Homo sapiens: one gene and its partners. The protein of the gene in region 1 purifies or fractionates together with the protein of each later gene. This does not show direct contact. Each region holds a gene or a part of one and is shown in the gene's direction. Other genes may lie near its edges.

What was found. Proteins that work in one complex are often made in the same cells at the same time.
Region 2: the proteins of MCM9 (region 1) and PFKP purify together in Homo sapiens (affinity purification with mass spectrometry; 2 studies listed by BioGRID and IntAct, with this or other methods). This does not show direct contact.
Region 3: the proteins of MCM9 (region 1) and WRNIP1 purify together in Homo sapiens (affinity purification with mass spectrometry; 2 studies listed by BioGRID and IntAct, with this or other methods). This does not show direct contact.

What each region holds. Positions count from the first base shown.
Region 1 is NC_000006.12:118,910,617-118,918,873, reverse strand, and holds part of MCM9 (DNA helicase MCM9), read left to right. Parts: intron 1-918; exon of another isoform or gene 919-1,010; intron 1,011-1,112; coding exon 1,113-1,313; coding exon of another isoform or gene 1,314-1,348; exon of another isoform or gene 1,349-1,705; intron 1,706-5,453; coding exon 5,454-5,579; intron 5,580-7,104; coding exon 7,105-7,224; coding exon of another isoform or gene 7,225-7,250; exon of another isoform or gene 7,251-8,257. UniProt on the Homo sapiens protein: Component of the MCM8-MCM9 complex, a complex involved in the repair of double-stranded DNA breaks (DBSs) and DNA interstrand cross-links (ICLs) by homologous recombination (HR).
Region 2 is NC_000010.11:3,105,548-3,113,175, forward strand, and holds part of PFKP (ATP-dependent 6-phosphofructokinase, platelet type), read left to right. Parts: intron 1-1,666; coding exon 1,667-1,762; intron 1,763-3,153; coding exon 3,154-3,246; intron 3,247-3,807; coding exon 3,808-3,933; intron 3,934-6,674; coding exon 6,675-6,739; intron 6,740-7,571; coding exon 7,572-7,628. UniProt on the Homo sapiens protein: Catalyzes the phosphorylation of D-fructose 6-phosphate to fructose 1,6-bisphosphate by ATP, the first committing step of glycolysis.
Region 3 is NC_000006.12:2,782,393-2,788,080, forward strand, and holds the end of WRNIP1 (ATPase WRNIP1), read left to right. Parts: intron 1-1,013; coding exon 1,014-1,169; intron 1,170-1,931; coding exon 1,932-2,011; intron 2,012-2,614; coding exon 2,615-2,890; 3' UTR 2,891-4,560; downstream 4,561-5,688. UniProt on the Homo sapiens protein: Functions as a modulator of initiation or reinitiation events during DNA polymerase delta-mediated DNA synthesis. In the presence of ATP, stimulation of DNA polymerase delta-mediated DNA synthesis is decreased.

The sequences.
Region 1 (8,257 bases):
AGCATTTTCCTTTAGGAAATCAAAAGCTATGCAGATTACTCATTGAAATTTAGAGAGTGAAAGGCATTTTTCATCAGCACATATCATATAATTGGCACAAAGGCTTGGAAATGAAGAATTGCCTGTTAGTTCTGAGACAGTGTTTATTATGCAAAATATAAATACCAGAATTGGGGTTGGGGCACATCCAACACCCTGTGTTCAACAAGATTAAAATTTGGGGGGACCAGGATTATGATTTTTTTCATGTTTGTTTTTGGCCCACTTTCTCCAGTACCAAAATATGGAAGGCCAAACATTTGTATATACTTGTTAACTGATGCATTGCATTGTATGTCGTAACAAGTACAGATGGCAGTGTTTGGCGAGTGTGCCTATAAACTACCCAGGGCCTCTTAGGAAAATCTATAAAAGTTGCTTCTGCCTACCAGGAATGGTGGGAGGGTTTCCTCAGGTAGGAGAGAACCATCAGCAAGGAACAAGCAGGATTGTATCTTGTGCTTTTATATTTTGTGGGAAGGAACTTTGAAGCATAACAGGCATTTATTCATTTCTTAGTTCATTGTTTCTTTGGTTCACTAAAAAAGATGTGGGGGGGCAGTGAGTAAAATATTAGCAAATGAGTTAAGTAAAAATGAACATGTAAGAAACCCAAACTACCTGCCAGTCATCACAAGGTTATCTCTTTTCCTGACTCCAAATTATAGTTTAACCTTCTGGCTGCAGTTCCCACATCTCTTCTCTAAATGAGAGCTAAATGGTTAGAGACTCAGAGGATGAACATTTCATCCAATGTAACTGTGATGAATGAATCATCCAGTAAACTATTTTCCCAGTGAAAAGTAATAATTTTGTAGGATTATCATGTAGCAGGTTATGAAAAATAGGAAATACTGACTTCAGCTTTTCACTTTACAGATACATGACTGTGGGGGACAACAGTCAAGAATCTGGGGTGCTATTCTGCCCCTGAATTGTTTTCTGGATGAGTGTACATATTGTAAACTCTAGTAAGGGAGTGGTTTATTTCTAATTTCTGGTCCTTTGTCATTTTGAGTCTGTGCTCAGCATGCAGGATGCTACTGCTGGACTCACTTGATGCTTTTTCCTAGGTGATGACCTCACTATTTACGGGATTGTAATGCAACGGTGGAAGCCCTTTCAGCAAGATGTGCGCTGTGAAGTGGAGATAGTCCTGAAAGCAAATTACATCCAAGTAAATAATGAGCAGTCCTCAGGGATCATCATGGATGAGGAGGTCCAAAAGGAATTCGAAGATTTTTGGGAATACTATAAGAGCGATCCCTTTGCAGGTTTGTGTTTAAGGGCTAAAACTGATTATTATTAATGGTATTACATTCAGTGGTTAAATATGATGTCTGTGATTTGACAGTCTTATATGCCGCATAACTCAATGACTGAGTTTAAAGGGTAGGATTAGTCATTACCTCTAGCTATAGTCTCCCTTTGAAGCCTTTTTCTGCCATACTCTTCTATTTAGCAACCTGCCTGGAGATATTTCATTTCTAACTATTATTTTAAACACCTTATACACTGCCAAAACAATTTCAGAGTTTCCTATCATATCAATTAAAAATATAGTTCTTTAAAAAGGCAAAACTCATCCTTTTATGAACCCTCATCCTATTAAAGCCATTGTTTTTCTTTGATGTATTTTCAATAATAAAGATCTAACTCTACACTATTTTGGCTGAAGATTTTAAAACAGGGAATAACTAGGAAAAAGATGAGAGAAGATGCAGACGATAAGCTTTGTCATCACAAGCAAAAATTTTGACTGTGACATTCAGGTGTAATTACATAGAATAAAACATCACAGCCATTGGGTTTGTAGTGTATTTTATTAAAAAATCTCAAGTGTGTAAAGCACCAATTAAATCTTCAAGTGCCTGTTTTCATTTCTCCATGGAGACATCTTTTGAGAAAAATAAACTGAAGCCAGTAATAGACGTTTCTAATAACACTCCCCTCAAATCTAAGAGATATTGATTACTTTATTCTTAAATCACATGCTAAATTAGATAGATATTATTTTAAAAAATAAGGCTTCTAGCTGGGCATGGTGGCTCACGCCTGTAATCCCAGCACTTGGAGAGGCCAAGGTGGGTGGGTCACTTGAGGTCAGGAGTTTGAAACCAGCCTGGCCAACATGGTGAAACCCTGTCTCTATTAAAAATACAAAAATTAGCCAGGTGTGGTGGCGTTGTCTCTATTAAAAATACAAAAATTAGCCAGGTGTGGTGGCGTGCACCTGTAGTCCCAGCAACTTGTGAGGGTGAGACAGGAGAATCACTTGAGCCCGGGAGGCAGAGGTTGCAATGAGCCAAGATCGCGCCACTGCAGACCAGCCTGGGCGACAGAGTGAGACTCTGTCTCATAATAATAATAATAATAATAATAATAATAATAATAATAATAATGCTTCCATTTCCCTAAATAGGGATAGTTTTATTTTATGGGATTTTTTCTTTTTTCTTTTTTTTTTGTGTGTGTGTGTAAATGTATAGCACATTAGTAGTTCCTGATCTTTCTTTTTTCTGATCTGTATTGAAAGAAGCAAAAGTTCTCTACATTATAGATTTATGAAGCAGGCACTTTAAGAATCATACATTTTTAAATGATTTTTAAAATTAAAATGGTTTCTTTTTTTTTTTTTAAAGTAGACAGGGTTCTCACTATGCTATGTTTCCCAGGCTGGTCTTGAACTCCTAGGCTCAAGCGATCCTCACACTTCCGTCTCCCAAAGTGCTGAGATTACACTGTGCCCAGCCTGAACAGCCTGAAAATGGTTTCTTAGGATTCTATCCTTATAAAAATTTGTAACTCTTCCTTGGACCACTGTTATTTATTTATTTATTACAGTGTCACAGCTCAGTTCTACCTCTTAACAATGAAGGGAAGGCCATCATATGGTACTCTAACTAGATCTTCAGACGTGCTTTGTGCTGGCAATTAAAGAATCTGTCTTGTTTTAATTAGGCTACTGTTGCATGAGCCATTTATTGGATAAAAGGCAGAAGTAAATATAATAGTCTTGTGAGAAATATAAGTAGGAAGATAGCAAGAAAATAAGGCAGTGTTTCTCTTGTTAGTATGAATGGATTCTCAGTTTCCTATGGACCAGCACCAGTGTACTGGTATTCCTCCATTTCAGAGTGTTGGTGAGTGTGTTGGAGGGAGGAGAGGTGAAGTTGGGAAGCTGTATCCAACAGAACATCTTCATTTTGCTGGTCTAAAGCTGGAGAATGCTTCACTGATCAGCACTTGGAGGTTGACTTGCTTAAGACCTGATCCTGTGGGTACTGGCTAGGATGAACCTAGGGGCCTTATTCTGATCTGCTGTCACCTGAGGGATTCCTTGACCCTGGTGCTTAGATGTTAGAAACCCAGATGTAAGGGTTGGAGTGTTTTGGGCCATCTGAACCCTCTTTGGGGGTCACTGACTTATCTTAATTCTGAGATTACTAAGGGCCTACTAAGTTCTCTTCATTGAGATAACTGAGGGCCACACAAGAGTAGATAACTAGGCCTTTGCCACACTATTGACATGGTCTAGAACTAGAAATTTGGGAGGGAGGTGAGGATGGGGGTAGTACTGGTGCTAATGCATTTTCTTCCATGATATAGCCATGAGATCTTCTGCTGCCATGATCTAAGGAATCAAGCTTTTCAACTTAGACAACACATTTGGCCCTTCCTTTTTGCTTCTCTCTGGGACCCCAGTCCTACCTTTGTAGTCTTTTGTGTTGACCACAGTGTGAGGAAATCTTTAGATCAGAAAGATGCACAAATAATACAGGTAATAAAATAGCTAACAGTTACAGTTAAGTAGTTCCCACTATATGCCAGTTATTATTTAATGTGTTGTATACTTACTAACTCCCTTGATTCTCAACAATTCTGTCTTGATACCATTATAATCTCCATTTTGCAGACAAGAAATGGAGGCAGAGGTTAAGAAACTTGCCTAAGGTCAGACAGTTGGTAATTAATAGCACTGGGATTTGAATCCAAACATGACACCAGAGCCTGTCCTCTTACCACAGGGATATGCTTCCCATCAGCATGTTACTCAGTAAAATTGGCTCTAAGTTTTGGCTTATGTAATTCCCAGATCAATTTGCCTACTCTTGAACCTGTTTGTTGGGGCTGTTTCTTCTTTCCTTCCACATGTAATCACTAGATTCTGGTCACAATTTACCTACCTGCTGTCAAGTCTTATCTGCTTGGATTCCTGACCTTTTCTCCAGGCTTTCTAACTCCAAACAGGGAGGGATTCCTTCAGCAAGTAATGAACTTCCTGGATTTACTAAATCTTCTGGTTCCTTTTTTACTAAAAGATTTTCTTTCTTCACCATTTCTGCCATCGCAGGCCACATCATCATAGATTAGTTGCCACTGAATCAATGTTGATTCATTACAAAAAGTAGCCTTTGTGTATAGGGCCATAAGTCGTGGAAAGGCTCAGGAATGGCTTGTTGGAATTCCATAGGTTGGTTAGGCCAATGACTGAATGAAATACCTGCTTTATTCATGGAAGAGATAGGCAGATTCTCAGATTTGGTGCGTTATTTCTGAAAACAGAACCCCAAACAGTGATGTTCTTTTATTTAAAGCACATGATCAGAAGAATTCGAGATCTCATACTTACACTGCTAGGGTTGTGGTGTGCAGTGATCTTCTTAATGCCTTGATGCCCCTGTAACTTTGTTCCAGAGAAAACAGAATTTACCAGACTGCTCAGAGCAAATGCTGAATTGACTTGGAGGGTGGATTTTTTACTTATTTCTTATACCTTTGGAGCAGCTTCATGAGCTCCAGCTACCTCTGTATTTAAAGATTACTGACTTGTATGATCTGACTCATTATTTCTGAGATTGAATACCTTCCTTTTATTTAGGCAGTGGAGTAATTTTACTGAAATTGTCACATAGAAAGTACATACGGTGGCTCATACCACTCATGAGTGCTGGGTGGTAATCCCAGCACTTTGGGAGGCTGATATGAAAGGATTGCTTGAGCCCAGGAGTGAGACCAGCCTGGGCAACATAGTGAGACCACGTTGCTCCAAAAAAGAAAAAAAACATTAGCTGGGCGTGGTGCTGCACACCTGCTGTCCCAACTACTCAGGAGGCTGAGGCAGAAGGATTGCTTGAGCCCAGGAGTTTGAGGCTGCAATGAGCTATGATCACGCCACTGCACTCCAGCCTAGGTGACAGAGTGAGACCCTGTCTCAAAAAAACAGGACATTTTGAACCAAAACAAAGTTATTTCCTCCTTTAATCCTGTTGGTCATTTGGAATTGGACCTCCTGATCACTTCACATAGTAGAGTATATTTAAATGAGGATGGTCAGATAGGAAAGGAAGGGAAATTTCAGTTGGGGTTTCTTGAAAATTATTGCTGATTTCTGATCTTTCTGCTTTTCCTAGGAAGGAATGTAATATTGGCTAGCTTGTGCCCTCAAGTGTTTGGAATGTATCTAGTAAAGCTTGCTGTGGCCATGGTGCTGGCTGGTGGGATTCAAAGGACTGATGCTACAGGAACACGGGTCAGAGGTTAGTACCTATTTAGAAATTTTGAGTAATATTGACACATGGATGGAAGCTAGAACTTTTTCTTTCCCAAATAAAAACTGCTCGTTGGGTTTTATTTTCCAATTGTAATCTTATAAAACTGACAGTTGTCTGAATATCTTATACTTAGTCTAGCATCTGTATATCAGAAGCTACTTTCTAGAGTTCCAGAAAGACTGAAAGAAGTTACATTTTTCTATGGCATATACTTTTGCTATAGCCTATAAGGATGCCACAAAATAAAATCTTTGTTTCTATTACTGTGTTTTTTGTTGGATCCCCGGTCTGTTTTCAAAAGGAAAAAGATTAGAAATAGTGTATTTTAATGTCTCCAGTCAGCGTCTCTCCATCTGTGGCTGTCACTGTGTTTCTCTTAGACTGCTGCTTTCAGTCATCTGCCTGCTGATTCTCCTTCTGCTGGTAGATAGCAAATGTGCCATCTGCCATGGGGTGCTGCTGCAGGTCACACCTTCAAGAAAAGATTACTCTTAAGTGTATAATTATGTCCAGATGGCAGAAAGCTCTTTTGCAGCTAACACACTTAACCAGAGTCTGGCATACGGGTTATTACGGCCCTGTACGTGGGCCATAATAACCAAAAATTAAACCAAAAGACTAAAAGGGCATTGTTATAAATCAGGCTGTTAGTAGGGACTCGAAAACCATATAGTACAGTATAGAATAGTAAGTATAAGGCGTCCTTATATGTTTTGATCACCTACTGTTTTGCAAGGCACTCTGCCAAATGTTGAGCTTAAATAGGGGTTTCCTATTAATGTATTTAGGAAACACTTGAGAATTGCTGAAGAAACTTGGTCAGTGAAATCATATGTACCATAGGATATGCACGTTATTTATGTTACATTTGCAAAATGAGTACTTATTTTAAGATACATATTTCACTAAGTTACTAAAATTTTCATAAATGAAAAGGTCTTCACTTAACTGTTAGAATCATAATTTGATATTTGTAAAGTACTTGTAAAATCCCTAATACTTCTAAGTGCTTAAATAAAAATAGAATAAAATACTTATATGACTTGTATGCAAGGATTTAATCATAGTAGTTTGATATTTAAAAATAGAGTAAATCAGAAACTTTATAAGCCAAAAATTTTTTGTTTGTTTTTGTAGACATGGAGTCTTGCCCAGGCTGGTCTCACATTTCCGGGCTCAAGTGACCCTCCTGCCTTGGCCTCCCAAATGCTGGGATTACAAGTGTGAGCCACCGCACCTGGCCCCAGATATTTTTTAAAATGTTAAACATAGGCCTGAACATCTGGAAATAGCACATAATTTATTAATAGAATTTAGATTCTATGTCACATTGAGTAATCAATTAAGGACTGTTTATGACAGTTAACTTTCTGAAGATTTTCTAGTTAAATCCTTTCTCAAACGACCCTATGTAAAAGTACACAGTAAAAACACTATGTAATATTTTGTTGGCATTCCAAATGGACCCTTTTATAGAAATTTAAAACTTCATGTATTTGCTTTTTCCTAGGAGAATCTCATCTTTTATTGGTTGGGGATCCTGGCACAGGGAAATCTCAGTTCCTCAAATATGCAGCAAAGATTACACCAAGATCTGTGCTGACCACAGGAATTGGATCTACTAGTGCAGGTATTGTATGTGACAATTTCAAGTAATTTAACATTACTTCAGAAGTTAACACAATGGTTTTTTCTAATGAAAAACTACCTATAATAGGATAAATTTCAAGCTAATTTTTGAGTTACCACTAAAAATGGAAGGAAATATGCAATGTTATTTTGGTAGCTCTAAGAAAATATCTTGCAAGCTCCACCTTCACTTTGCATCTTAGTTTTGAACAATCCTATTCAATTTTCTCATTCTCTAGTGATTACCTTCATACTTTTATGCAGGAAAAAGTCCGTATCATCTGGCATTTTATCAAGACTCAGCAACTGGAATGTTAAACTAAAGAGGGGGATATTTCACTTTACCAAGTAGATAGATGGTATAGAGCTTAAGGCATTTTCATGCTCATAAATCTGATAGGCAACAGTAGCTCCTACTGAAATTTCTTAGGTAGGGAATGTTTATTAATATTTGGAAAATATACTTCCATCATTGCAATGTGGAGCTTCATTCATAAGTTGTAATGATTCTTTAGCAAGTACACTTAAAAGCCTTTGCAGGTAGAATGTCAAGATTTGATTATAAATAAAGTGACCCAGGGAATTTAGAAAAAAATTATTTTAAAAAATATGTTTGATGCTATTTTGTATTTTTACAGTTTTGATTGGGTAATGTTTCTGTTCTTCTGAAAACAGACCCTTGGCTTCACACATTTTAAAAATGTTTGCTACTTGTTAAGGGAGTCAGATTAACTTCCATTGGGCTAATGAATGCTCAAATTTCTAATGAGAAACTAACACTTTAAAATTTATCATACAACAGAAAATGGCCAATTAATGGTCCTGTATAAGTGGAAAACTGTTAAGGAGGTCTCAGGTTTTGAAATATAACTCAACAGTATATTAACCATTGACAAGAATGGATTTTTGGAATTGAGAAGGGTAGACAAACTTCAGGATACTAGGCAAGAATATATAAAGAATATTTCCCATGCGTTTTAAATCCGTATGACCCAGTGTTCTAGAGTTCTGTATAAAATGATACCAACAACAAA
Region 2 (7,628 bases), on another chromosome or scaffold:
TTGCTTTAATCAGGATCCCAAGTGGGACGGCATTTTAAGCAAGTGAAAAAATTTCTCTGTCTCCAGTTTGTCACACTTTGTATTTCACTCTATGGACTGTGAGCGTGGGGCATGTTTTCCTCTATGAAGGCTGAGACTCAAGGCAGAAGAGGTTTCATTTAAGACCTGAGGCTGAGACAGAGTGAGCCTGGTTAGAATGCCCCATGCGTGCCTAACTCCGGCAGGCAGACTTCAGGCACTGTTGGCTCCAGGCTCCACACAGCCACCCCTATCATTTTCTATGGGTGGGTCTTTAATTTGGGGCTTAATAGAAAGCGAGTCCATTGAGGATGAGTTAATCCACATCATGGAGTGGTCGCTATGTTCCTTTCATGACCTCTTTAGGCTCACGTGACTGCCGTGAGCATAGGAAGGACGACGGGGACAGCAGCCACGGTGGCCCAGCAGTGTGAGGCCTTTCGGGTGCAGCTGCAGCTGCCAGAAACCCACTGTCTGGGCCCTGTGTCCGCTCACGCCGTTTTCTCTCTCCCGACTCTCTGCTGCTGGAGCCTGTGTGCAATACAACCTCATCCCAGTGGCCAGGCTTCGGGGCCTCCCCTGGGAGGGCCGGGGAGGAGTGGTTCACAGGGAGATGGCAGGAAACTCTGGAGGGAGGCAGAAAGCATGGCGTGCACGGGGCGCCTGTGGGGCGTCCACCTGTGTGTCCTTCCCCATGGGAGGCAGAAAGCATGGCGTGCACGGGGCGCCTGTGGGGCGTCCACCTGTGTGTCCTTCCCCATGGGAGGCAGAAAGCATGGCGTGCACGGGGCGCCTGTGGGGCGTCCACCTGTGTGTCCTTCCCCATGGGAGGCAGAAAGCATGGCGTGCACGGGGCGCCTGTGGGGCGTCCACCTGTGTGTCCTTCCCCATGGGAACCCCTGTCAATCACACCAGCACCCTCCACCTGGGGCTGACTGGGGGCCACATTTCTATCTGCGGTGGTGATGTGAGCTCCCAGTCCCAAAGAGCTCTCTTCCAGTGAGCCACAGCCGCCCTGCTCCTTCACCCCTGCCCCTCTCCTCACCCCTGCCACTGCCCCTTCACCCCTGCCCCTCTCCTCACCCCTGCCCCTCTCCTCACCCCTGCCCCTGTCCTCACCCCTACCCCTGTCCTCACCCCTGCCCCTCTCCTCACCCCTGCCCCTGCCCCTTCACCCCTGCCCCTCTCCTCGCCCCTGCCCCTTCACCCCTGCCCCTCTCCTCGCCCCTGCCCCTTCACCCCTGCCCCTCTCCTCGCCCCTGCCCCTTCACCCCTGCCCCTCTCCTCGCCCCTGCCCTGCCCCTTCACCCCTGCCCCCTCCTCGCCCCTGCCCCTTCGCCCCTGCCCCTCTCCTCTCCCCTGCACTGCCCCTTCACCCCTGCCCCTCTCCTCACCCTGCCCCTGCCCCTTCACCCCTGCCCCTCTCCTCGCCCCTGCCCCTCCTCTCACCCCTGTCCCTCCCTGCTGTCACCCAGCACACCTTTCACCACCTTCTGATGTCATTGGGAAGCAGCTCTTAGGAAGTTAGGCAAAGATTCCTGCCCAGAAAGAGGCCAGTTCAGTTTGAGACAGACTTCTGTGGTTTTGTTGCATTTGTTGCTAAGAACAGGATTAGGAATTTGAGAGCTTTAATTTTCTGTCTCCACAGAACCGTGCCCGGAAAAAAAGGCTGAATATTATTATTGTGGCTGAAGGAGCAATTGATACCCAAAATAAACCCATCACCTCTGAGAAAATCAAAGAGGTGAGTGTGTGTAGCTGCTCACTTTCTCTCGGTTTCTGCCTGGAAGCAGGGGAGGCTAGCGTCATGGGCAGGCTTGGTTTAGAACATTGAATTATTAACTTTTTATCCTTGATATTTAAAACATTTTCATAATGACTCAGAAGTTGGACGGCAGGGGAAACACGCAGCTCCCGCTCCTGGGAGCCCATTCCGCTTACGTCACCTCTTGCCGAGCCCGTAGAGGTTCCGGGACTCCCCAGCAGACAGAGGGGGTCAGCTCGAGTGGCCACGCGTGTTCTTTGGATTAGAATGTTCCGGCTCTTAAACATGAGCTGCTCTGAGAATGAGGACTGACCACTTGGCAGCCGACCCGGGCTTCTGTTTGCCACAGTGGGAAAAGGCGGCGTCTTGCTATTCCCTGTGCCCTCCCATAACCCAGAGCATCAGCTGAGCACATTCTTACAAAGCCACTGTGTCCTCGTGGCCCTGCCTGGGAACAGGCTTTGGCAGGCTTTGGCAGGCTTCGTGCCCTGGGACTTGCTCAGGCCAGTGCCTGCCTGTCTGGAGAGGACTCTGATACCATGGGCTGTGCCCCTGCTGTAGACGGGGCTGCAGGCTGCCGGGGCTGGGGATGGGCTGTGGCTCCAGCAGCCACGGGGCAGAAGACGTCCCCACCTGGCTTTGCAAGTCGGCTTCTTTATTGTGCTTTGTTATGGTCAGTTAAGGAGCAAAGCATATCTCTGGATATGAAAACAGTGATGGACACCTGGGAAAGACATCTGCCAATATTTATAAGTGGTCATCCATAAAGTCCAGGCAAAGATTTTATTTCCCGCTTAACTGTAATTAAATTATAGGACAATGGACCGAGAAGGAACCAAGGAATTTACGTAGCCCAGCCCCACTGTCCTTACAGAGGAATAAGCTGAGTTCCAGAGACAGTCAGTGGCCTCTCCAGATCACCGGGCCGGTGTGCCCATGGGCTGGGGCGAGGGGAACGCCTTGATTGGGCTGGCTTGTGCTGTTCAAATCACAGCTGAACAAATTAAAGCTGGTTCAAGGAAGATGTTTACATTTTTTGTAAAATATAAGTAATAGTTTAAATGCAAGCTACTGAAACGTTACTTTTTTATTTTTCTTTTTTAAAGCAACGAACATATTACTTGTATTCATTTTCTAGGTGCGAGCCAAGATCTTGTCTGGTAACAACAGTATTATTTTTAAAACCAATTTTCAGCTGCCTGTTATATACACTAAACGTTCTGCTAGGAAACAAAATTTAGAAATAACTTTTCCCATTTAGATCTGAAGAAAGAGCGAAAAACCTTTTCCAGTGCCCAGTACCTCCTTCCAGATCTGGGCTGCTGTGTCCGCATCACAGTTCCGCATCCTAACGAGATGTTTCCTTGCAGCTTGTCGTCACGCAGCTGGGCTATGACACACGTGTGACCATCCTCGGGCACGTGCAGAGAGGAGGGACCCCTTCGGCATTCGACAGGATCTTGGTGAGTTGGGAAGGGTTGGGCATCTTCACAAGGTCTCTAGGAGGAAGCGTTTCTGGAGAGGCACAGGCACCAGCCGGCCACAGAGGCTGGCAAGGTGCTCCCCGAGAGATGCCCGCGGCCCGGCCCTCATCTTAACGATCCTTGAGACCTTTGGTGTAGACCAGTCTCTAGGCCTGCAGCCATTCAGATGCGGGGAGAGCTCCCTAATGTGGGAAGGCAGTGCTTGGTGTTGGCACGACGTGGACCCCAGAGGGCACAATCCCAGGGCAGAAAGGCTGTGTTTCTAGTGAGTTTCTGGAAACTGACTCAGGGCAGCAGGAATCCCAAGTACAAACCCTCAGTTCTTAACACTCCTGCTCTCCATGTGCCCTGACCTCCTCTCTGTTCCCGTCTTGCCAGTTCTAAAGGAGTGGAAATCGCTTTGCTCTAAAGAGTTGGGCTGGAAGCGGGAGGGGCTGTGAGCACCTGACTGAGGTCATTGGACGTCATGGAAAGATAGGAGGTGACAGGGACAGGGCAGGACGGGAGGCTGCCCCTGACCCACATGGACCTGGTTTCCAGGCCAGCCGCATGGGAGTGGAGGCAGTCATCGCCTTGCTAGAGGCCACCCCGGACACCCCAGCTTGCGTCGTGTCACTGAACGGGAACCACGCCGTGCGCCTGCCGCTGATGGAGTGCGTGCAGATGGTGAGTGGGCAGCCCATGGCCAAGGGCAGGGCGGAGACGGCTGGGACAGAAGCTGCTTGTCAGGCCAGCCTGGGCACCTTGGGTGTCTCGTCGGTGCACGATGCATTACACGGCCTTTCTGAGAAGGAGGTGAGCTGCCCGTGGGGAGGGAGAAGGCTTATGTTCTCTCCCACACCTGCAGAGCCTGCGCCGTCTTCGCTCTTTGGTTTTCTAAGTTACCATCCATCTGTGTGGCACATAGTCGTAACCTCCCCTGAGTGGGGGTCTAGAGCATCGGGATCCTCAACAGTCGAGGATCCAGGTGGCCCCAGTGCACCAGGTGCTGCAGAAGGACAGAGTGCAGGGAGGCAGCCGAGAGAGAGAGATCCGTGGACAGACTGCAGGGAGGCGGGCGTGAGAGAGACCCATGGGGCAGAGGGGGCAGGGAGGCAGGGAGGCGGGCGTGAGAGAGATCTACAGGGTGGTATTTTGTAGGGGAAGGTGGGACCTTCCCAAACTTCTCCAGTTTCAGCCATTTCCTGTCCTCCTATCCCCAAGGACATTCAGGTCTGTGATGGGACACAGGGAAAGCTCTGGTCACCCGAAGATACACCCACCCTTCTTGGGCCAGGGAACTGTCTGCCTGCAAATGAACAAAGGGAAAAGCAGTTCCAGCTTTTCAGGCATTGGTTCAGTAGTGGAGGTGGCTGTGGAGTTAGCTGCATTTGAAGTTATTTAATTAATTAATTTATTTATTTAGAGACGGAGTCTCACTGTTGCCCAGGCTAGAGTGCAGTGGCGTGATCTTGGCTCACTGCAAGCTCCGCCTCCTGGGTTCACGCCATTCTCCTGCCTCAGCCTTCCGAGTAGCTGGGACTACAGGTGCCCACCACCACGCCTGGCTAATTTTTTTTTTTTTTTTTTTTTTTTGTATTTTTAGTAGAGGTGGGGTTTCACCGTGTTAGCCAGGATGGTCTGGATCTCCTGACCTTGTGATCCATCCACCTCGGCCTCCCAAAGTGCTGGGATTACAGGCATGAGCCACCACGCCCAGCTGTTGTTTTATTTTTCAGAGTTCATTCATGATTCGTGACTCCTGTTTTGTTGCCTCTTAACACACACAAAGAAGTCGTGAAGCAATCAAGTCAGGGACTTGTTGAAAGTCACCTTGTAAACATAATTTCCAAAAGCCCAAGGGAGAAAATAGTATTTGTGTGTATGTGTGTGAGTGTGTGCGCAGGCTTGTGTCTCTGTGTGTATGTATGTATATGTGTGTGCATGTGTATCTCTGTATATGCATATACATGCAGGTTTATGCATATATTTATGCATGTGTGTGCATGTTTGTGAGGTAGTTTGGGTCTGCATGTATGTGTATGTTTATATGCATGAGTATGCATGTTTGTGGTAGTATGTCTGCATGTATGTGTGTGCATGTTTGTGTGCATGCATGTTTGTACGTGTGTGCATGTTTTTGTGAGGTAGTGTGTGTGCATGTTAGTGTGTGTGCATGTGTGTATATGCATGTGTACATTTGAGTGTGAGGTAGTATGTTTCTGCATGTTAGTGTGTGCATGTATGTTTATATGCATGTGTATATATGTGTGTGAGGTAATGCATCTGCATGTGTGTGCATGTATGCTTATATGCATGTGTGAGCATGTTTGAGATAGTGTGTGCATGTCTGTGTGTGCATGTGTTTATATGGATGTGTGTGTATGTTTGTGAGAGGTAGTATGTGCCTGCATGTTTGTGTGTGTGTGCAGGTATGTTTCTATGCAGATGTGTGCATGTTGGCATGAGTGTGAGGTAGCGTGTGTCTGCATGTTTGTGTGTGCAGGTATGCTTATGTGCATATGTGTGTATGTTGGAGTGTGAGGTAGTGTGTGTCTGCACGTTAGTGTGTGCCTGTGTGCATGTGAGAGGCAGTAGGCTTAAAAGGCTCAGAGCACTGAACGACATGCGGTACGTGTATTTTGAGCCTGTGTCTCATGTCTCTGCTTGTCTAGAGACGACCGTGGTAGGTGTCACTTGCCCTGACCTTGAAACCACCCTTGTGTGGCTTTGTTTTTAAAGCTGAGGGACCACTACTGTGCACCTGCTGTTTGTCAGGCGTCTTCCTGAGGGTCTGACATGCTTGAATAACCTTAGAGATAGCTGGAAGTAGGAGTATTTTTCTCATCTTACAGATGAGGAAATTGAAGTTCAGAGCGAGAAAGAACTTGACCAAGATCCTGACGTTGCCCAGGGCTGCCTGGCGTGCATCAGTCCCAGCCCCGTGTCCCAGGGCCTCCATCCGGGCCCCTCTGCTCCCCCGCCCGCTGTGACCTCGCTCCCATCCCACATCCCCCAGTGAGCTGGTGTGTTCTGTTTTGTTTTTCCCCACCATAATCAAATTGAGAATTCCTTAGAACCATGCCTGAGAGATTTCATTTCCTCTGGCTTTGTTCTCTTGGAGTTAAATCTTCACAGTGTTGTGTCCACAAACAGCAGGTGACACCTTCTCTTTTTCCTCAGAAGCCTCCTGAGCTAAGCAGTCCCAGGGCTCTGACCTCACAGCCGGGCCGTGTGGGGCTGGCTGCCAACCAGCATTAGGACACACTTGGCGGCCGGTCGTCTAGACCATTAACCCTGGGGCTGCTGGCTGCCCGGGTCAGACTGGAGGGGGCTGGTGGGAAGGACCGAGCCAGTCTCTACCTACCCCATCCATGATGCACCAGGTCCTGACACATTCTTTCTTCTTTTCATCATTGTTTTAAAAGACTCAGGATGTGCAGAAGGCGATGGACGAGAGGAGATTTCAAGATGCGGTTCGACTCCGAGGGAGGTGAGGTGCTTTGGAGAAAGCTCTGCCCTGTCAGGAACACACACCCCTCAGGCCCAGCCACTGCAAACGTGCTTAGGGGTTGTGCTTATTCCATGTCACTGTGAAAAATCAGAAAGTCAGGCAGTACTCACAGCACCGCTCTTGCAGTAGCAGGCCCTGGTGACTGGTTAGAGAGAAATCATTTTCTAAATTTGCCATTGGTCCTTTTTGGTAAGGTGATGGTTGTTTAGGAGCTAATGAGATTAAGGCACAAGGTGACTTGTGGCCCTTTAACAACAAACCAAAACAAAAAAAGGAGTCTCCTTCTGTTGCCTAGGCTAAAGTGCAGTGGTGCCATCTCAGCTCCCTGCAATCTCTGCCTCCCATGTTCAAGCAATTCTCATGTCTCAGCCTCCCAAGTAGCTGCGACTACCAGCTCGTACCAGTGCATGTCACCACATCCAGCTAATTTTTGTATTTTTAGTACAGACGGGGTTTCAACATGTTGGCCAGGCTGGTCTCAAATTCCTGACCTCAAATGATTCACCCGCCTCAGCCTCCCAAAGTGCTGGGATTACAGGCTTGAGCCACCGCACGCATGTCTTGCAAGAGAAAGTTATGAAGTGTAGAAGCGTGCCCTTTTCTCTTAGTCCATTTCCACCAGACACGGACAGCACCGCGGGTCGCGGCTAAGGGCTCTGCCATGCACATGGAACCCTGGGGCCTCCTCCTTCTGCCCAGATAGTCGGGCAGACACATTGAGTGCTGGCAGATAAGCCACCTTTTCTCCACATGAGCCCTGAGTTGTGTCCGGTATTCTCGACTCCGGTCCAACGACACCCTTTTCCTTTAGGAGCTTTGCGGGCAACCTGAACACCTACAAGCGACTTGCCATCAAGCTGCCGGATGA
Region 3 (5,688 bases), about 120 Mb from region 1:
TTTCCCCTGTGGGAGGCCAGCATCTTCGCTTGCTCTCTTCTCCACCTGAAGACCAACTGTCATCTTACCAGCGAGCTCAGCTGCCAGGGTTTGTGGCTGGCGCCAGTCGTATTGTGGACATGGGCTTATGCTGAGCACAGACCAGGTGCTCCTCTGGGAGGAGTGAGACTCACGGGAACACCATCCTCCGCTTTCTCGTGAGGAGGGTGCCCCCTCCTTGAACTTACCTAAGGGACGATGGCCAGAGAATAGTGAAATGTATGCAGGTGCCACTGCTTAGTTCCTGAGAACTGTTTAGCTGTCATTTTTTTGCCCTTAAATATGCCTTTTTTTAAAGCACATTTCACTGATTTCATGTGAATCTAGGGTAAAAATGGAGTAGTAAGACCAGGCGGTGAGAGAGTGGGCTTCCGTCCACTTCAGGGCGGAAGCTGGTTAGTCCACGTGTCGGTCCTTCTGGGACCCTGCCACACAGGTGTCCCCACACCAAGGCTGGCAGAAGGAGGTTTAAATGACCACAGGCTTCGGATATCAGAAAGGCAGCTGGAAATGACACTGAGGAACAGATGGGCTATAACAGCTGCCCTTGCCACTTGGCTCTACATCCTCCTGGCTCCGAGCAGGCCCACCGTTGCTTTTCCTCCAGTAGATGGTGGGCCACGGGATAGAGCCAGAACAGAAGACTCGTCCCCCTCCACTCTTGTCTCTGGCAAATCCACCAGCTGGGAGGACCACCTTTCCTCCCTCCTGCCTCTGTGCGTGTGCGTGCACTCCATGTCGACAGCCACAGGTTTCTGCTGCAGCAGCCTCTTCCCCTGAATAGGACTGGGATTAAGCCCCAGCAGCTGGTGCACCCCACTCAGAGCACGGTTAAGGCAGCTGCCCAAACCTCTCCTCGGCTTTCTCAGGGCCTTTATTCGTTCAGGCTTTCTGGAAGTCAGCTGGCGGAGGTGAAGATGGCTTGGGCGCCCCTCCTGTGAGCTCTGTGTGAGTGGTGCTCTTTGTGATGTCAGGTGAGGAGCATTACAACTGCATCTCCGCCCTGCACAAGTCCATGCGGGGCTCAGACCAGAACGCCTCCCTCTACTGGCTGGCTCGCATGCTCGAGGGAGGAGAGGACCCACTCTACGTGGCACGGAGGCTTGTCAGGTTTGCCAGCGAGGACATAGGTGAGTGTGATGGGAGGGTCCCGGAGTCCTATGTCCATGAGGGTGGGGAAATGGCTAACAGTTACATCGTGGCTTTTTTTTTTTTTTTTTTTGCAGGGCGGGGTGGGCGGGGGTAGCAGGAAGAATGTCTCAGGGCTATGTGAGACTGGCAGGAGAAGATAAGACTTTATGCCTGAGCTCAGTCGTTTATTTCCTGGTGTATGTGCTTTTGAATGTTTATGTTCATAAAGTCACCATTTTCTGTTTCCTCTTCGGGAATGTTTTTACTAACATGAGTGGCTATTCAGAGTATTGCAATAGATGAGCTGCTTTTAAATTTGCTTTAAGTCAGGTGTTCAAGGTTTTCTTTGGACAGCTCCCAAGGTAGAAATGGAAGACTCTAGACACTATATGAAGAAAAAGATCAGGAAAGCTCTCCTCTTCTTTGGTCTTAGGGGATGTTTTGTTTTTAGTGTTTCCATCCTGGTGAATGTCTCCATAGCCTTCACTTCTTATGTTTGTTATACAGAGACTCATGTTTTTCTAGATGCAGAGTTTTTATCCACAAGGAAACAGTTCTTAACACCACACAGTAACCACTCTCAATATTTCTTGCATAAGTTCATGGGATCAGAGACTAGAGCTAAGTCAGGCTGTTTTGCTACATGGGATTGTTTTGGTCACCAAGTGTACAAGCAGTGGTGGTCTGTGGTCGCCTGCACATAGGCCAGGAGGACAGTGTGTGTCATGACTGAAACTCTCCTTTGTCTCTGTGTGTGGCAGGTCTGGCAGACCCGTCTGCGTTAACACAAGCGGTTGCTGCCTACCAAGGCTGTCATTTTATAGGCATGCCTGAATGTGAGGTAAAGTAATCAGCTCATTTCTTGCAAATCACTTCTTTTCTCTCTCGTGCTCTGTCCCTTTGTAGATTTGAATAAATGTCCCTCCTTCACCATTGGTGTATTGGACCCACTGAGTATGCTGCTTGGCTTTGGAATTCCAATTGTAGACTCTTAGACTCCTAGAGAGGGAAACCTTCTGTGTCAACGAGGTCATGTTTCAAACTGTTCTCGGGATTCCGGGGTTCAGAGCACATGCTCCATATGTTCCAGGGAGCAGAAAGGTTAAAGGAGCTGAACAGCAAAGCCTCTGCAAGTTCGCCCCCAGAGCAGCTTCATATTCATCTCTTTTATATATTGGGGGCTTAAGAAAAATTTAATGTAGTAAAAAGTCCTTCAGTTAAAAAAAAAAATGAAAACCACTCACCTGGTTTGCCTCTCGTTTCACCTCATGAGAATTTCTTCTGTCTGTCGTAGGTGGTTATCCAGACTGTAGGCGCAAAAGGGGGATAATAAAAGCATGTGGGGATCTTCTCAGAATTACCTAGAGCTGTGTATCAGAAGGGGCTCTGCAGAACAGAAGCTTGGCATCTTGCTAGTAAAATGTGTCCTCTGTGTCATTGGTAGGTGCTTCTGGCCCAGTGTGTGGTCTACTTTGCCAGAGCCCCAAAGTCCATTGAGGTGTACAGCGCCTACAACAACGTCAAAGCCTGCCTGAGGAACCACCAGGGGCCACTGCCCCCCGTGCCCCTGCACCTGAGGAACGCGCCCACTAGGCTGATGAAGGATTTGGGCTATGGCAAAGGCTACAAGTACAACCCCATGTACAGCGAGCCTGTGGATCAGGAGTACCTGCCTGAAGAGTTGAGGGGGGTAGATTTCTTCAAGCAGAGGAGGTGCTGACTCCTCAGGGCACGACAGCAGAAGGATGTTGCTTTTTTAAGGGAGGGCCAGAAAGAAAGTTAGTGGATTGCAAAGTTGGTTGCCTGGTGGAAGTTAGAACAGACCAACATTTTGTGCCAGAAATTTAAGAGTTCCATAGGTGGAGGCGCAGTTCTTTCGAATAAATGTGTAACTTTGAAATTGTGTTCATTTGCACTCGGTGCAGCGGTTATGCTTATGAAAATACCTGGCAGCTTTGTGCAATGAATTAATGTTATAAGGAATTATCTATTTTGTCATAGTATTTAAGTCATAATGTCATTTCAGAATTCAGTTCTGTAGGATTTTCTTTTCTTTAAAAAATGTATATTCTGGGTAGTTTTAATTGGTAAAAAAATGTAATTGTGATTTAATACTGCATAGTGTTTTGGGTATTTTTTTTATATGCAAAGGTCTTACGAGCCAATAAAACTATTTCAAAGTACTCTTCGATTCTGTCATGGTTTTCCTGCCTGGATGCTAGGTACCAGCGTTGTCACCATTGCATTTGGTGGGTGGATACTGGGAAGGAGAAATCACCCCAGATGGGAAGAGTGGGGAGCTTAAGTTAAGAAGTCAGTGTTATCTTGTTGAAAGTTAACTCTGATCTCTTTAAAGGAATACATAAAGGAATTCTTTAAATGGCTTGTGGAAGACTCCAGTAGTCCCATGCCCATTTTTTCCCACTTGTCCTGGTTTCTTCTTGCAGCTCCATATTTCTAAACAGTCGTTTTTCTTTTACTTTATGTGTGTCCTGAACACAAAATACGCCACTCCTTCTGCTCAGTTAAGAGTTATTTGTCCCTACTGCTACTTCCTCTCCCTCTCCTTAGTTGCATGTCGTGCATATGCCCACAAGGATGGCCCCTTCAGGTAGTCGGTTCTCCTCCTGCTGTTGCGTGATCCCTCCTGGGGTCCTCCTGCCATGTCTGGAAGGCTGCCGGCTGTTGGCCTGGGACGTCCTCTGCCTTTATTCTGAGTGAGATGCCCATTTTCTGGATGCTCCATCCCGCCTTACTGGTTTATTCCGCTATTTCAGTGCAACCCATCCTCTAGTAGTTTTATCAGGCTGGAGGGACTGTATGTTGCAGAGGCTTGGCCCGACTGGCCTCCCTCCTTCTGTCTGGAGTGGTTGCACTGCAGTGTGCAGTTGCCATCCCCAGAATCTCCCTTCATCATCACCCTGGAGCTTTCCTCTGCTTCTCCCTGCACCCCATCTGATGACAGGACTGACTGCTTTCTGGCACAGGTGGCATGTACCCTCTAGTAGCTTTATGGAGCAGGGGTGTGTGGAGGAAAAGTATTTTTAGACCTCAGGAGACTCAAAATGCTTTTATTGTACCTTCAGACGTGTCTGAGGGTTTGGCTAGTAATAAATTGTAGGTAAGAAATTACTTGTGCATTGTTTTACACTTTCCCACATTGTTGTCAAGTTTGAAGGCATCCTGATGTGTGTGGTCTTTTGTTTGTAACCTCTATCAACTTGTAGACTCTTCTGTCTTTGCTCCCCGTGTTTTAAAAGTCTGCACTGGGTACTTGTTGGGCCTTTCAATCTGGAAACTCCTTTCAGTTCTAGGGAAGTTTCTTTTTTTATTCAATAAATTTATTTATTTATGAGACCAACTCTTGCTCTTTTTCCCAGGCTGGAGGGCAATGATGCGATCTCGGCTCACTGCAACCTCCACCTCCCAGGTTCAAGCGATTCTCCTGCCTCAGCCTCCCAAGTAGTTGGGATTACAGGCGCACACCACCACACAAGGCTAATTTTTGTATTTTTAGTAGAGACGGGGGTTTCACCATGTTGGTCAGGCTGGTCTCGAACTCCTGACCTCGGGTGATCCACCCACCTCAGCCTCCCAAAGTGCTGGGATGACAGGCGTGAGCCACCGCGCCCGGCCTCAATAAATATTGAGTGCCTGTTTTATGCTGAGCATTCTTGTTGATGTTAAAACACATCAGTGAGCAGAAGAGACCAAAAATTCTGTGTTCTTAAAGCCTATGGTATGAAAAATAATATGTTAATATGCCAAATAGTGATAAGTGCTATGCTAAGGAGAAAATGAATGAAAGATTGAATATGGAAAGGGGAGGTATGGGTGCAGTTTTAGTAGAGTAGCCAAGGTGGATCTCACCAAGAAAGTGTTTGAGTCAAGACTTCAAGGAAGTGAATGTGCCTTTCAGACACCCGGGAAAGGATCATCCCAGGCAGAGGGAAAAGCAAGTGCAAAGGCGCCGAGGGAGGATGGAAGGCTGGGTGGGTTCAGCATCCAGTAAGGAGACCAGTCTAGCCGGAGGGGAGGAAAGAGTGGTAGAAGTCGAGGCCGAGGATCATGGAGCTTCAGATAAGGTGGGACCTTTTAGGTCATGGGAAGGACTTTGGCTTTTACTCAAGGTTTCCCTCAAAGAGTGTCATGATGAGACTTTGATGTTATAGGGATCCCTTGCCGCAGTGTTGGGACTAGACGGTAGGTAGGGTCAGGCTCATCTTTTCAGTCAAGTAGGTCAAGGCATGGCTCCCTGCGTTCTCAGCGCCAGGTGGGGAAAGAGGAAAGTCGTCATACATCACTCAGTATGTGCCTACCACTTTGATCTTCTGACTGAAATGGTACCCAAGCCCCTGGCTCTATCTGGGCCCCTCTGGTTCAGAGATCTTCCCCTGGCCTGGAGTAGGAGAGGGTGTCTGGAGACCCATCTTCCTCTTCCTTACCTGCTGCCACCTCCCAAGCCTCTGAGACGTCTGCCACGTTGATGCCTTGGCATTCCCCACTCGACTTGCCAGG